Homo sapiens: one gene and its partner. The protein of the gene in region 1 binds, or shares a complex with, the protein of each later gene. Each region holds a gene or a part of one and is shown on either strand. Other genes may lie near its edges. A codon is read from its position in the direction of its gene.

Region 1 (7,839 bases):
CAAGCCTCCGTCTCAAAAAAACAGAACAAAACAAACCCAAAAAATCACAATAAGATACCACCTCACATTCACTAGGACAGCTGTAACCAAAATGACAGACATATGTTAGTGAGGATGTGGAGAAATTAGAACCCTCATACACTGCTGATGGGAATGTAAAAGGGTACAGTTACTTTGCAAAACAGTTTAGCAATTCCTCAAAAAGTTAAACACAGAATTACCATATGACTCAGCAATTTCACACCTAGGTATAGACCCAAGAGAATTAAAAACATATGTTCATGCAAAAACTTATCTGCAAATGTTCATAGCAGCATTATTCATAAGGCCGAGAACATCCATCATCTGATGAATGGATAAACAAAATGTCTATATTCACAATGGAGTATTATCCAGCCATAAAAAGGAATGGAGTGCTGATACACGCTATGATATGGATGAAACTTGAACTCATTATAGTAAGTAGGAGAAGCCAGTCACAAAAGACCACAGATTGTCTCATTCTATGTACAACTGATCCTCAATTTCATTTCATTATAATGCTGACAAGATTAAAAAAAAAAAAACAACTCCCAGCGGGGGCCCCTGCCTGTGTGGAGTCTGTGTGTTCTCCCTGTGTCTGCGTGGGCTCTCTCCTGGTACTCTGGTTTCCTTTCACACAATAAAGATGTGCATGTTCACTTCAATGGTACGTCTGCATTGTCCCAGTGTGAGTGTGGGGGTGTGTGTGAGTGCTCCTCTGGTGGAATGGTATCCTGTCCAGGGCTGGCTTCTGCCTCATGCCCTAAGCTGCCAGGACAGGCTCCAACCACCTGTGACCCTGAACTGGAATGAGTAGATTAGAAAAAGAATAGATACAAATTATTGTAGAATTAAACTCATAAAATATCCAATAATCATACAGATGCATGACAGCAAACGATGTGGCATTAGTCATATGAGCCCCCCACATTGGTTATTGTTGGTTTTTGAACTGTGTGGTGGTAGGAGGTAGGACATTGATGTTCGCTTTGCAAACATTTATTCCTTGATTGAACCACCAACATCACGACCACTGTCACTCGCTGATTCACCAAAAGTTGGGTAAAGAATGACCTTGTTTATATTAATCTTTCTTAAATGTATGCATAGCTCACATACTTTTTAAAAGTTTTAATAACACCACTCCATTCTACAGGGTCCCAATGACTACTGCAGGGCATGTCACCTGGAGGCAACCATAGCTAAGGTGGCAGTGAGCAGGCTGCTGCTGCACCAGCCCTCCCCTGCTTGGGAGCACACAACAAGGAAGCAGTGCCAAGCCCTGCCTGGTCTGGCTTCAGGGCAGAGAGGCTCAAAGCTGCTCTAGAGCAATCATGTCTGGTCAGCTGACCACTCCCCGGCCCACTGTCCAGCGGGGACCCTCCCGTGCCACCCTCTAGGGAGGCTGCAGCAGACACGGGGCAAGGCAGGCGCTCTCACTGCACGAAAGGCAGGGGATGGACTCACGGTGTGAGCGTTGTTGATCTTCTTTACTTCCCATTGGCCTTCCCCGGTGTAAGTCAGCAGGGAGATGGCCCCATCCGAGCTCCCACAGGCCAGGATCAGGCCGTAGTCATGGGGGGCCCAGCACACCGAGTTCACTGCGGGAAGAGGGAGAGTGCAGTGAGCAAAGCAGGGAGACCGCGGCCCCAGGTCCCGCCTTCCACAGATTTACTGTTTTACTAAATGTCTACAACAAACAACTGTAGGAGTCACCGGGGGAAGCTGTAACTTGGTCAACTGAGGACACAAAAAAACCCCATCACCTACTAATACCACGATTTCATAACCTACAGTCTATCTAACAAAAAAGTGGGTAGGAAAACAATCTGAGAATGAAGGGTAGTCCTTGCAATGAATAATCCTGAAGAGAAACTCACCTGTCTTTTCTTATTTGCTTTGGACTGGCTTTAGGTCTTAGGGCCTTACTCAGCTGAGGACAGAGTAGCAGAAAAGCCAACCAAAGCTCAAGAGACAGACAAGAGGCACCACGAGGGGCAGGGAGCCAGGGCTCCAGCCGGGACAGAGTCCTTTTTTACCCAGTGGTCCCCTTGCCCGCTCTGCTGCCAAGCTCAGCATACCTGAGGAGTCGTGTCCCGCATGCTCGTGGCTCTTCTCCCAGGTGCCGTTTTCCTCTCTCCAGATAATGACTTTCCGGTCATAGGAGCACGATGCCAGGATGTTGCCGTACATGGGGTGAGCCCAGGCCACTTGCCACACAGGACCCTCATGACTACAAAGGGAGAGATAGGCCAGAGGAACCCACAGTGCCTCTGCAGGCACTACTTTGGACAGAACTAAATGGCTCCCTGAGACGATATATCAGGGCAGAATTGCTTAAGAACTTCAAAGGGAGAACTATACAATGCCATTGCAAAAGGGGTGCTCAGTGGACAGTGAGGAGCCTGAGGTCCTAAGAGGTTAAGCAACCTAAGGTCACAGAGCCTTTGAGAGAGAGTTGAGCCTCTGGGTCAGCCTTCCTGTCCTGGCCAGGCAGGAGCCTCACTTGCCCAGACTGCAGCCAGCACTGTCTGTATGTGCTGTCTACAGCATAGTCATTAATTGGTCCAAGGTTTCCAGCCAGAAGTGTTCAGGAAATATTTGTAGACTGAATTGCTATTCATCCTTCCCGACGGTCAGCTTCCTGAGGAGGCATTATTGGTTTCATTTTGATGTTTTCCACTACTCTTTTAATTTGTTCGAAAGGCATGTCTTTCCCTTCTCTTCTGATCTTTATCCATTCACCTGATAACAGGTGCTATCTGAGCACATGCTCTGTGCCAGGCTTTGTACGGTGACCATTTCTCTGGCCCAGGGAAGGTTTTGCACCTTAGCACTCAAGAGGTAGAGTAGCATGGTAGAGTTAGTGGTTAGGAGACCAGACCCATTCTCCCATTCACTAGCTCTTGACTTTAGGCAAGGATATCTTTGTCTCTTTACCTGAAAATGGAGACATCAATAAGAATTCTTTCATAAAGTTTGGAACAATGCTTGGTAGAAGGAAAGAAAAAAGCCACTCAATACCCATTAGCTATTAGTGCTGCTCCTGGTTTACTCCTTCACCGTGGGCTGCACACACTCAAGTCTCCTCCTCCCTCTGGCTGGGACAACAGGACATTCCCAGTCCCTACAAAGCTGCTGCTAATGAAACTGAGTAGACTCAATCTTCCAACAACTAGCACAGTTTTTACTAAGGGGAAAAAAGAATGGGGTGGGAATTTTTTTTATCCCTCCAATATTTCACATCCTTTGAATGTAAGAAAAACAGCAGAAAGGACAGAGTCACAGCAAACATAACTGCCTTGGCCAACACGCTGCACTGCAGCAGCTCTCTGCCTGCCTGGGGGGCTCCTGCATAGAGAAGCTTGATTTGGCTCCTCAGTCACTTGATCATTTGACACTCAGACAGAGGGGAGCTTCTAGGCCCATTTCCCCAAATGGACACTGACTTAGTTTATGCTTTTTAATTCAGTGAACAAACACATGCTGAGCACCCACCTGTCATGGCTCTTAATCTTTTCTGTGCATTCTGGGGAAGGTTATGGACCCTCATCAGACTAATGTACAAAACACACAGAACTAGGCTTATAAAGAAAATTCAATTATAAATTATACAGTAATCAACTTTTTTTTTTTGAGAAGGGTTTCACCCTGTCATCCAGGCTGCAGTGCAGTGGCACCATCGTGGCTCACTGCAGCCTCAAACTCCTAGGCTCAGGCCATCCTCCCACCTCAGCCTCCCAAAGTGTTAAGGATTACAGGCGTGAGCCACCTTGCCCAGCCTGTTATCAAAATATTATAAAGCAATTTATGAGATAGTGATGCATGTACTTCTTTGTTAACACTTCAAGCAACAAACCCTAGCGGCAGGTCTAATAACCACTGTAATTTCAAAGTTGTGATGAGCATAAGTGGTATTTTGAGGTAGCTAAGTAACCGTGATGTGTGATGACAATATCTGTGAATTCTACTGGTGACAAAGTGACAGGCACTACAAATACTACTGAAGTTTCTGGCCTACATCCATAATTGAAGGAAATGCTAAATATCAGAGTCACTGAAAATGCATTTTTTTCCCCCTGTCCCAATTCATCAACCCCTGAACTCTATTCACAGAACCCTTGGAGATCCACGGCACCCAGGCAAACCCACAAATACGTGAAAGGCAGTGAGCTGAGGGAAAGCAGTAGAGATGTGGCCATAAAAATGAGCCAGGACTTCCTCAAGAATCTCAGTAGGGAGCAGGGCAGGTCAAACATTTGTAAATAATCACTGAACACGTGCCACGGGCATATAGGCAGAACAATGGGATTTATAAAATGATAGCATTCTTACATTATTCTTACGGTGATGCTTTTGTGACACTTTAGGTCATACTGGCTAAACTTGAACGAAATGGTACTGTTTACCACTTTTAAAAGTAGCAGTAGCTGCCTGCACTAAAGACTTACTGTGTCCTGGGCCCTGTGTCAGGGCCTTGCATACACTAGCTGGATAGGAGGTAGCATTGGCCCAATTTTGAGGATGAGCAGATGAAGGCTCTGAGAGAGAAACTGAGTCACTTGCCCAAGGTCTTCTGGTGGGTACACATAAAGTGGCAGAGCTGAGATTCACACCTGTATCCACCTGTGCCCTTAACAGCATCATCCCTGGGGACGTCCGCTGAGGACAGCCAGGCTGGCTGGGATCCCAGCGTCCTCTCCGCTAAATGTGCTTTGGGGTTGCTCTGAATCTGGGCTCCCATGCTTTGCTCCCACGCTTGAAGCAGGGCCTGAGAACCCACACCATTCCTGGAGCCCTTCCCTGGGCTCGCCAGCACTTACCCCCTGAGGTCGGCGATAAGGATCTGCCCTCCATTGCGCACATCAAAGATTTTGACGGACCTGTCTGATGAGCAGGTTGCCAGGCGGGTGCCATAGTAGTCCATCTGGGCGTCGTGCTGCAAAGGGAGGACAGCTCGGGAAGCCTGCAGGCTGGGTGGGTGGGTGGGTGGGGTGAGGGCTGTCACTACACAGAGTCTAGTTTGGACCAGAATCTCCCTGAAATCAATCTGATCTCAAAGTATCATCACCCTCAGGCAGGAAGCTAGCATGTGGACATTCTCACTTCACCTATGGGCAGTGTCTCTCTGAAATGGACAAAGCAAGCCATGCCCAGCTGGTGTCACAGACCCTTTACATACCTCAGGGAAGGGCTCTTCCATTCCTGTTCCGCAGGGTGGGTATGGGAGAAAAAAAGTTGGCCTAGCTGCCCTCTTCTTCCTCCATCCTCTCAGGCCCTATTCAGTTCTTAGGCTCTGTGGGCTAAAGGGGAATACCCCTGGGTTCAGCTCAGCCCTAGCACCTGATGCTAATGCATGGGAGCAGGCCAAAGGAGTGGGCCTCTGACTGCCTGGAGTCCCCAGTCAGGTCTTCTGTGATGCAGCTCTGGCCTGCACACAGGGTTCCATTCAGATATTTGGGCTCTTTCCAGCCCTGGCCCTGGATCCTTTGTGGACCTTTGTTTTGGGGCTTCTGCTCGACCTTTTCCCTAGTAGTGTGCCCAGAGCTTCCCAGACTTTCCACCCAAGGAACACAATGCCTTAAGTGTCGCTGCTCTCACCACTTGTGAACCGAATTCCTTGATGCTGACTGAGCATGCAGAACTAGGCCTGGCCCCTACCTGCAGATCCTTGTCCGCAGGGTGATGGTCTCTGAGGCACCATGCCTCCTGCACCACTGAACACCCTGGTCCCTTCTGCTTGCTGGCCCTGCCTATTCCAATGGATGTCCCTTTCCCCAGCTGTCCCACCCTGGGAGTTTCAGGACTATCAGCTGCACTCCCATGGCCACCAGGGGCAATTATGCCCATTCAAAGGCACTCATTCTGTCTGGCTCAGATGGGAATTCTCACCTCCCTACGCAAGGAACACATCCTGATTTTTCTTTGGGAACTCCCTCCACTGTATCAGGCCTTGGTTTCTTGGAGGGCAGGCAGTAGAGGAGTGTTTCTGAAGCACTTCTCATGCTTCTCAGTGGAAGGAGGCAGGACATAGTACCTTTCAGATCTAAATCCTATCTCCTTAGTTTACCTGCTGTGCAAACTTTGAAAACACTTCATCTCCTTGAGCTTCAGTTTCCTTATCTTTATTATTTACCAACATCCTATGGGCCTTAGTTCCCTTATCTTTAAATAAGGCTAAAGATAGCATCTGTCTCAACAGTTGTTATGAAGGTTAAACAAGATATTGAATGAAAACTCACGCCTGTAATCCCAGCACTTTGGGAAGCTGAGGCGGGCGGATCACCTGAGGTCGGGAGTTCGAGACTAGCCTGACCAACATGGAGAAAACTTGCCTCTACTAAAAATACAAAATTAGCTGGGAGTGGTGGCGCACGCCTGTAATCCCAGCTACTCGGGAGTCTGGGGCAGGAGAATTACTTGAACCCGGGAGGCGTAGGTTGCGGTGAGCTGAGATCACGCCACTGCATGCCAGCCTGGGCTACAAGAGCGAAACTCCATCTCAAAAAAAAAAAAAAAAAAAAAGAAAAGTACTTAGCATGGGGCCTGACACTCAGTGAGCATGCAAATGTTTGTCATTACTACTTGGCCTCATCTAGTTCTCAAACCAAACTCATACGAGTAGGTAGCATATCCATTATTTTTCCCGTAAGTAAATTGAGGCTGGCTCAGAAAAGTTAAGATATTGGCTAGGGAGTCTCAGACTGGGTCTTCCTGCCCATGATTCCATGCTATCTCCAAGGAGGTGTGGTCTTACAGCTAGACCACTCATGACTGAATCCAGAGAACATATACAACTCTGGGACCAGACAACCTCTCAGAAACCCAAAAGCAACTGTTGGTGGACAGGTTGTGAGGGCAAGAACCCTGACATGAAACACTGTCAGCCAGCTGTCCTGGGTCTTGCTCAAAGGCTGCTTGGCCCTGAATGAAGCAGAGTCTGTGTTTTTCCTGCGGTAGACTTTAACCTCTGGACCTTCTCCTGCAGCCCTGTCCTCTTATACTGAGCCTTGTGTTTACCTCTCAGGAAATGCCCTGAGTGTGGACTTCTGGTTCAAAGGGCCTTGTCTGGCCTATTGTCTTGGTGGTTTGACTGGGCTCTGCCTGGGGCTTTCACTGTGGCTGCCCTCTGCCTTTGTATTGAGTCATCTTTCTACACTCTCTTCTTTTCACCCCCCTTTCCAGTGGGGCTAAGAAGTGACAGCAGGAGGAAGACAGGTGGGAAGACTATTGTCAAGCCTCCGTACCCACTCAGCCTTCATCCGAGAGCAGGTTATTGTATTGGCTGGAAGACTGACAGCCTAGAACTACAAATTATTCCCAGGTTCCTCCCAGCAGAGAGTGATTAGACTGCCACAGTCCTGACAACTCAGAGGGCACTGCTAGGGAGCCTGCCATACCCCGAGATTACAGGCTGATAGGCAACCACTGCAAAGCCACCCTGGATCCATGAATGATCAACAGAAAGGGGTAATGAAAACCCCAAATTGCTTCCCTCCCACAAAAATGCCCATGTCCACACCCCTCCAGGGAGGGTGATATTAATACTTACAATCATGTCCTCATGGGAGGTATCCACAGTGTTAATTACTGACACCTAGAACCAAAGATATCACTGGTAAATTAACTCATGGCAGTTAGAATACAACCATCTCAAGTTCTTGACTGCATTTGTTTGTTCACTCACTCATTCATTCATTCATTCAGTAAGCATTCATTCTAAGTACCTTCTTTCTGCCAAGCACTGTGCTAGGAACTGGATATACAGACACAAATAAGAGGAACTTTTTGCCCTTGAGAAGCTCGCGAATAATGCTA
Region 2 (7,839 bases), on another chromosome or scaffold:
TTATTCTTTCTCCTTAGATTGTAAACTCCTTGATTCAAAGTCCATATCTTCTTTCTTTTGAGCATCTCAGAGTCTAGTATGTTTTCCAGTTAATGGGCATACAATGCTGTGCTGCTACTGAGAAAGGTTTTCCAGAAAATAGTATTTGATTTTTTTTTTTTTTTTTTTTTGAGACAGAGTCTCGCTCTGTCGCCCAGGCTGGAGTGCAGGGCGTGATCTCGGCTCACTGCAACCTCTGCCTCCCAGGTTCAAGAGATTCTTCTGCCTCAGCCTCCCAAGTAGCTGGGACTACAGGCGTGTGCCACCATGCCCAGCTAATTTTTGTATCTTTAGTAGAGACAGGGTTTCACCATATTGGCCAGGCTGGTCTCGTACTCCTGACCTGGTGATTCGCCCACCTCAGCCTCCCAAAGTGCTGAGATTACAGGCGTGAGCCACAGGGCCCGCCGTATTTGATTTTTAAAGGTATTGAGGGGGTGGGAACTTTGCTTATGACATGATGGGTTTAGCCTGTGCCTTGGACTTAATAGACACTTAGAGGCTATTGGTTTCTGCTCAATGGCTCCAGGCCCCATGGGATTTCAAGTCGGGGAGGTATTCCTCAGATTTGGTGTCAACAAAAAGAAAGCCAAATCCATTTTGTCTTGGCCTATTGTTATTATTGTTACTTTTTAGCTTCAGAGAGGATACTGAAACTTTTATAATGAAGGCAACAAAGTCTTTCATTATTTAGGAAAAGAGGGACAGATCTTAAATGTGTTATAGACTGCCTTTTTTTTCCTCCCTGCCAACCCAACTTACTGATGAAACAGCATTTTAAAAAGTCATGTGAGGCCGGGTGCAGTGGCTCACACCTGTAATCCCAGCACTTTTTGGGGCTGAGGCAGGTGGATCACTTGAGTCCAGGAGTTCCAGACCAGCCTGGCCAACATGGCAAAACCCCATCTCTACTGAAAATACAAAAATTAGCCAGGTGTGGTGGCACATGCCTGTGATCCTAGATACTCGGGAGGCTGAGGCAGGAGGATGGCTTGAACCCAGGAGGCAGAGGTGGCAGTGAGCTGTGATTGTGCCACGGCACTCCAGCCTGGGCGACAGAGCGAGACTCTGTCTCAAAAAAGTAAAATAAAATAAAAAGTCATATGAGTTAGTGGTTAAGTAGATGACCCACTGAAATTATTACACTGTGTCATTTCTCTGATGTTTGCTTAATGAAAAATTTTTAAGCCTAGTGTTTCTCAAACTTTAGAGTGCACATAACTCCCCTAAAGAGTTGGTTAAAGTGTAAACGCTGATTCAGTAGGTCTAAGTGGGGCCTAAACTTATGCATTTCAATAAGGATCCAGCTTTTGCTGCCCCCAATGTAGCAAGGCATCAGGTTTTATATGGAAGACAGGTGGGATTGCTTCATGGTTTCGGTTCTTGTCCTTGCCAGTTTGAGTTTGTATTTCTCTTTGATCTGTCCAGGTTTGGTCGCTGGCTACGGTAGCTACAGATCTTTGCCTTGGTCCGAAATCTGACCCAGATTTGGAAACACCCTGGGCTCGACATCCATTTGGGCGGCAGCTGCTGGAGTCCCTGTAGGTTTTGAGAGCTAAAAATGAGAAAAATGAGTGATGTCCATTTTTGGTCTGTAAACACTTGAAATGTCACCACCTAAGAGAAAGGTGCAGAGGCCCGAGGAATGAAAGGAAGGAGTAGGATCTTTCCTTTCAGTGCTGAAATAATTTCTGTGCAGAACAAACTTCTTATAGCAGACAGAACCATACATTACTTGTCATTTATAACAAGGATTTGAGACCCCTGAGACTCATGTATCCTTTAGAGATTCATGCTTTAGTCCATAAATCACATCAGTCTGAATACAGGAGTTTGAGCTCATGAGATGGTAAGTTTCTTCTTGAAAGCTCTAGGGTCTCACCCTTGAGAATGGATTAGAGAATTGCATGTTGGTGTTCATGTTTGCCAAAGACCACGACGCTTTCACCCTGTTAGGCAATTTGAGAAAACATTGCCTTTGCGTTCAGTTTATTGCACTGACATATGGAAAACTAGGGTATACTATACAAAATAATTTAACACCAAGTAAAACCACTTGAATCTCCATAACTTGGAGGCCCAGGGCCTGGGGAGAGAAACGCTCCTGACTTCAAGTTGAAGTTTGCTTAATTTATGCATTAAGGCCACCCCTGGGACACGTGTTCGTGCTTCCGTTTCCTTGTCACTAACACAGGGATGATAAGGTTTACTCTACTTATTTCGTGTAAGACTCAAATAAGATAGTGAGTGTGAAAACACAAATATTAGACATTGAGTGATAGGAGGACATTAATATTATTCATTCTTAAAGGCAAAGCCCCTCTGATTCCTTACTCACATTCTAGCATAATCTTCCTGAAAGGACAAAGGGGATATGAGTACCTAAAGGACAGAAACACTCCTTGTTGTTCTTACCTAATAGCTCATCTTCATAACTGCACCTCCAGAGTCGATTGCCTGCTAGCATGCTGTGGCGGTCCAGTGTCCTCTGAGCTCCTTCATGTAGCTTTAGGTTATATAAATGACATGTGTGGGAATCCCCCAAAAGCAGTGTGATTCTTCCTTGGAGCTGGGAAGACAGAGCATGTATTGGCTCGCTCAGATGTCAGGTTAGTCCACTTAGTTCTTGGAGAAGCCACATTCATGTTTAAGCCCATGCCTGAAAGTTAGCCAGAGGCTTTGAGATGCGTTCTGTAGATCATTTGTAGTACGTGGATGCCTTATATTCCAAAACAAGTTTAGGCAAACTCAAAGTAGGTCAAACTGCCGGATCTGTAGAAAGCCCCATTTCCTGATGGGTTTTTGAGGCAGAATCAAGACTCCTCCCTTCCCACCCCTGTGGCAGTAACACGCCATGACTGTGACCGCTTTCCTCCTCAATCCCTCCTCCTGACTTGTTTTCTTTCCTCTTATCTTTTCCTCAGGTTGGCTCACTATTGCCGGCTCCGGGATGTTCAGACACTGGCGATGCTCTGTAGCGTGTTTGAAGCCCAGTCTCGGCCTCAGGGGCTACCAAACCCCTTTGGGCCTTTTCCTAACCGTTCTTCTAATCTTGTGGTGTCCCATAGTCGATATGTAAGTTTGTCCTTTTCTGGTTTTGTCTGATTTTTTTTTTTTTTTTTTTTTGAGACGGAGTTTTACTTTGTTGCCCAGGCTGGAGTGCAATGGCATGATCTCAGCTCACTGCAACCTCCGCCTCCTGGGTTCAAGCAATTCTCGTGCCTCAGCCTCCTGAATAGCTGGGATTACAGGCATGCACCACCACTCTTGGTATATTTTTGTGGTTTTAGTAGAGATGAGGTTTCACCATGTTGGCCAGGCTGGTCTCGAACCCCTGACCTCAGGTGTTCCACCTTCCTTGGCCTCCCAAACTGCTAGGATTACAGGCATGAGCCACCGTGCTTGGCCTGCTGTTTTCTTAATGTGAACTGTCATGGGGAATGGTATTCTCATGCTAGTCCTGTTGGTTCTTCTCTTCCCTTCTGTAGCCTAGCTTTACCTCTTCTGGTTCCTGCTCCAGTATGTCAGACCCAGGGCTCAACACTGGCGGCTGGAACATAGGTTTGTATGGAAATGACTTAGCCCACGCTGGATTTTTAGTTCTCCCAGAGCTGTGCATATGTAACCTTTAGTTGATGCTTAGTCTCCATATTTTTTCTTATTTCTTATTTCTCTTTACATTTACTGTGATAGGGATACTCTTGCTGGAGGCCTGACTTTGCATGTTGAACAGACCACGTTCTGGGGGTCTTTGTGCCTTGCTGTGTTGCTTTTCATCTCTTAACCTTGAGAAACTGACAATGGGACTTCCCACTGTTCACCCCCAAAACCTAACCCTTATCCTTTCTCCTTCACATGCTCTTTCCATGTTCATCTGCCACCTACCGCTTCCCATGAATGCTTTCAGTGTAGACAAATACAGCTGGGCCTGACTCCAGTTGATCATAAAGCTGTTTGCTGAGTAAGGTGTATTTGTGTTTCCTGGATTTAAAAAAAAAAAGGTTTTTAAAATGATCTTAATTTTCCTGATATCAAAAGTAGCTCATGCCCAGTGAAGAAAAGCAAGCAAAAAGTATTAGAGAAGAAAATTGTAATTATTGATCTCCCACCTAGGAATAGCGTCCATTAACATTCTAGAACATTTGCATCCATTCTTTGTGTGCAGGAGTGTGGTCATTTGATATATGTGACTTTGTGTTCTATTTTTCATTATATCATGAGCAAATATTGTTCAAAAAGTCCTCGTAAATAATGACTATGTAATGTTCTACTGTATCTCTGTGCCATCATTTGCTTTATTTATTTATTTTTTTTAGTTTTTTGAGATGGACTCTTGCTCTGTCGCCAGGCTGGAGTGCAATGGCATGATCTCGGCTCACTGCCCCCTCTGCCTCCCAGGTTCGAGCGATTCTCCTGCCTCAGCCTCCTGAGTAGCTGGGATTGCAGGCACGCACCAGTACGCCCAGCTAATTTTTGTATTTTTTTAAGTAAAGACATAATTTCACTATGTTCGTCAGGCTGGTCTCAAACCTCTGACCTCAGGTGATCTGCCTGCCTGGGCCTCCAAAAGTGCTGGGATTCCAGGCATGAGCCACAACGCCCAGCCCATCATTTGCGTTAGCATCATGTGTGTGTACTTAGTGATCAAGTTCTCTTAGTAATAAATACCTGCGCAAAAAGGCAAGGGTAGGAGAGAGTTCTATTTAGTTATATTTCTCAGAATATTCAGCCTCGCTTAACATTTCTTCTGGGAAATCCATTGGCCACGTGCTGTCTTATGAGACTCTTCAGATATTTTCCATGCCTTCTCTGATTGCCATCTTCCCTTCCCATTTGATTTTCTTCAGCGGGAAGAGAGGCAGAGCACTTGTCCTCCCCTTGGGGAGAATCCTCACCAGAAGAGCTCCGCTTTGGGAGTCTGACCTACAGTGATCCCCGTGAGCGAGAACGCGACCAGCATGATAAAAATAAAAGGTAACCACCCTCCCAGGTGAGAGCTGCAATGCCAGGACTCCAGGCAGGACTCCAGTTTCTCCACAATCACAACTCTTACTTTTTTTTTTTTTGGACACAGAATCTTACCCGGTCACTAGGTTGGAGTGCAGTGGCGGGATCTCGGCTCTCTGCAACCTCTGCTTCCCAGGCTCAAGTGATTCTCCTGCCTCAGCCTCCTGAGTAGCTGGGATTACAGGCACACGCCACCATGACTGGCTAATTTTTTGTATTTTTAGTACAGACAGGGTTTCACCATGTTGGCCAGGCTGGTCTCAAACTCCTGACCTCAAGTGATCCACCCGCCTCAGCCTCCCAAAGTGCTGGGAGTGACAGGTGTTAGCCACCGTGCCTGGCCAGGACTGTTGCTTTAAGAAGGGTATATTAAGTGCCATTTAGGATGAAGCTTGTTTTTTCTTAAAGGAACTGACAGGAAATCTTTTTAACTTTATCCAGGCTCCTGGACCCCGCCAATACCCAGCAATTTGATGACTTTAAGAAATGCTATGGGGAAATCCTCTACCGTTGGGGTCTGAGAGAGAAGCGAGCTGAAGTGTTGAAGTTTGTCTCCTGTCCTCCTGACCCTCACAAAGGGATCGGTGAGTATGAATTTCTCTCTCTTCCTTTCACTGTCTGAAAGATCCTGTAATTTAATATGTCCACAGCCTCAGACTTGGAATGAAGTTTCAGCTTCTCATTTCTAAGCAGAAATTTCTGAGGCATTTTGAGTCTATTCCAAGCATCTGAAAAGCCCTTGCATTTCGTAACAGGATGAATTTTTTTTTTTTTTTTTTTTTTTTTTTGAGATGGAATCTCACTCTTGTTGCCCAGGCTGGAGTGCAGTGGCGTGATCTCAGCTCACTGAACCTCTGCCTTCTGGGTTCTAACTTCTCCTCCCTAAGCCTCCCGAGTAGCTGAGACTACAGGCGCCTGCCACCATGCCTGGCTAATTTTTGTGCTTTTAGTAGATGGGGTTTTACCACGTTGGCCAGGCTGGTCTCGAACTCCTGACCTCAGGTGATCTGCCTGCCTCGGCCTCCCAAAGTGCTGGGATTACAGGTGTGAGCCATGGCGCATGCCCAGGATGCAGTTTCTATTGCAACAGAAGTAGTTGATATACAGTACTCCAGCGCGGATGAGAGGGATGGATATTTCTTCATTTATTCCACTGTGTGTCCGACTCCTCTTAGGCACAGTGCCCACACATTCCTTCCCCCCATGGAGCTTACAGCTGAGTAGGGGGGAAAATTAAGTAATTTCAAATTGTGATAAATATTCGCAAGCAAACAGAAACGATGTGGGGGCAGGGAGAACAGAGAGGGAGAATCTTAGAAGAGGAATTGAGGTGTGTTGAGAAGGCCTCCAAGGAGCTGAGGTCTGAAGGTTTAAAGGAACCGTGGAGCCATCGGTGCAGAGTGGTGAAAAGAGCATCCCACACTGAGGGACAGGCCCCAGGGAAATGACTGTCGTTGTGAACAAGCGAAGGAAGGTGGCGTGGTGTGGTTGGAGTACAGTGGGGAGAAGAGTGATATCAAATTAGAGTGTAGAGAACTTAGGGTTATATCAGGCAGGGGCTTGTAAGTTGCGGTAAAGAATTTGGATTTGGCCGGACGTGGTGACTTACGCCTGTAATCCCAGCACTTTGGGAGGCCAAGTCAGGCAGATCACTTGAGGCCAGGGGTTTGAGACCAGCCTGGCCAACATGGTGAAACCCCGTCTCTACTAAAAATACGAAATTAGCCAGGCGTGCTAGTGCACACCTATAATCCCAGCTACTCAGGAGGCTGAGGCAGGAGAATCGCTTGAACCCAGGAGGCAGAGGTGGCAGTGAGCCAAGATCACGCCACTGCACTCCAGCCTGGGTGACAGAGCGAGACTCTGTCTCAAAAAACAAAAAGAATTTCAATTGTATCCAAGTCCAATGGTAAGCTTCCAAGGGCATAAGAAGTAAGCAGTGTGCTTTGGGTTGTGTTTTAAGAGGGTCACTGTGGCCTTCCTACGAGGAAAGGATGGGAGGAGGGCAGATCAGAAATAGGAAGCCCGTTCAGAGACGTTGTAGCGGTCAGAGGCAGACAGCCCGGTCTGAGGGTGGCATCGCTAGAGTTGGAGAGAGATGATGGATGGGTTAAAATATATTTTAGAGCTAGACTCAGTGTGACTTGTTTATAACTTGGATGTGGGATCAGGAAGAAAGATGAAACTTGGACGATTCCTAGATTTCCAGCATGAGCAACTGGGTCATTGGCAGTACCAGCTTCCCAGATGGAAACGACTGGAAGAACACTGTGGGCTTAGGTTGGGATAGTCAGTGATGTGTGTGAGATATCGGACTGGAGAAGTTGCATAGGCGGTTGGATGTGAGTTGGGCTCTCAGAGAAGAGATTGGGGCTAGAACTGGGAATTTGGGGATCCCCAGCATGTGGATGGCATTCCAGCTGTGGGAATGGGTGTGTTGACCCTGGAGCTGGGGCTGGGAAGGAAGAGTGCAGGGAGAGGCCATCTGCGCTGGGCCTTGAGAGAAACCAATACCTGGAGCTAGGGTCGTAGAGGAAGAGCAAGGCAGAGAGAGTTAGAATGAGACCCTAATGAGTGTTGAGGAAAAGCAAGACTGAGCAGGGAGAGGTGTTTTACAGAATGAAATGGAAGGCTGCCAAATGTAGTGGACTAAACATACACTGATCTCCTCTTCTCCAGGACCTCACCAAAATGTCTGTACAGAGCTCTTCTGAAAAGCCTAATTGTACAAGAAGTAATGTTGGCAGTAACATTTGGAATCTGGGAAGTGGGTAGCTTAGTGGCAGCTGATTT

Evidence for each region. Proteins that work in one complex are often made in the same cells at the same time.
Region 2: the proteins of SEC13 (region 1) and WDR59 are in contact, whole or in part, in a cryo-EM structure (PDB 7UHY), measured with the Homo sapiens proteins. Residues at the interface, in NP_899195.1 of Homo sapiens: Val4 (codon at 7,612), Ile5 (codon at 7,609), Asn6 (codon at 7,606), Thr7 (codon at 7,603), Val8 (codon at 7,600), Asp9 (codon at 7,597), Thr10 (codon at 7,594), His12 (codon at 7,588), Asp14 (codon at 7,582), Met15 (codon at 7,579), Ile16 (codon at 7,576), His17 (codon at 4,960), Asp18 (codon at 4,957), Ala19 (codon at 4,954), Gln20 (codon at 4,951), Met21 (codon at 4,948), Asp22 (codon at 4,945), Tyr23 (codon at 4,942), Tyr24 (codon at 4,939), Gly25 (codon at 4,936), Leu28 (codon at 4,927), Val42 (codon at 4,885), Pro59 (codon at 2,244), Trp61 (codon at 2,238), Gln62 (codon at 2,235), His67 (codon at 2,220), Pro68 (codon at 2,217), Tyr79 (codon at 2,184), Ser105 (codon at 2,106), Asn107 (codon at 1,620); in NP_085058.3 of Homo sapiens: Ala525, Tyr526, Gly527, Asp531, Ala532, Asn533, Ile534, Pro535, Phe536, Pro537, Arg538, Thr539, Ser540, Gly541, Ala542, Arg543, Phe544, Cys545, Gly546, Ala547, Tyr549, Val551, Phe553, Thr554, Arg555, Met557, Ala644, Gly645, Lys646, Val647.

What each region holds. Positions count from the first base shown.
Region 1 is NC_000003.12:10,310,477-10,318,315, forward strand, and holds part of SEC13 (protein SEC13 homolog), read right to left. Parts: intron 7,619-7,839; coding exon 7,574-7,618; intron 4,961-7,573; coding exon 4,845-4,960; intron 2,255-4,844; coding exon 2,103-2,254; intron 1,623-2,102; coding exon 1,489-1,622; coding exon of another isoform or gene 1,354-1,488; exon of another isoform or gene 1,100-1,353; intron 1-1,099. UniProt on the Homo sapiens protein: Functions as a component of the nuclear pore complex (NPC) and the COPII coat. At the endoplasmic reticulum, SEC13 is involved in the biogenesis of COPII-coated vesicles.
Region 2 is NC_000016.10:74,883,444-74,891,282, reverse strand, and holds part of WDR59 (GATOR2 complex protein WDR59), read left to right. Parts: intron 1-1,467; coding exon 1,468-1,580; intron 1,581-2,963; coding exon 2,964-3,114; intron 3,115-3,527; coding exon 3,528-3,600; intron 3,601-4,886; coding exon 4,887-5,013; intron 5,014-5,487; coding exon 5,488-5,630; intron 5,631-7,839. UniProt on the Homo sapiens protein: As a component of the GATOR2 complex, functions as an activator of the amino acid-sensing branch of the mTORC1 signaling pathway. The GATOR2 complex indirectly activates mTORC1 through the inhibition of the GATOR1 subcomplex.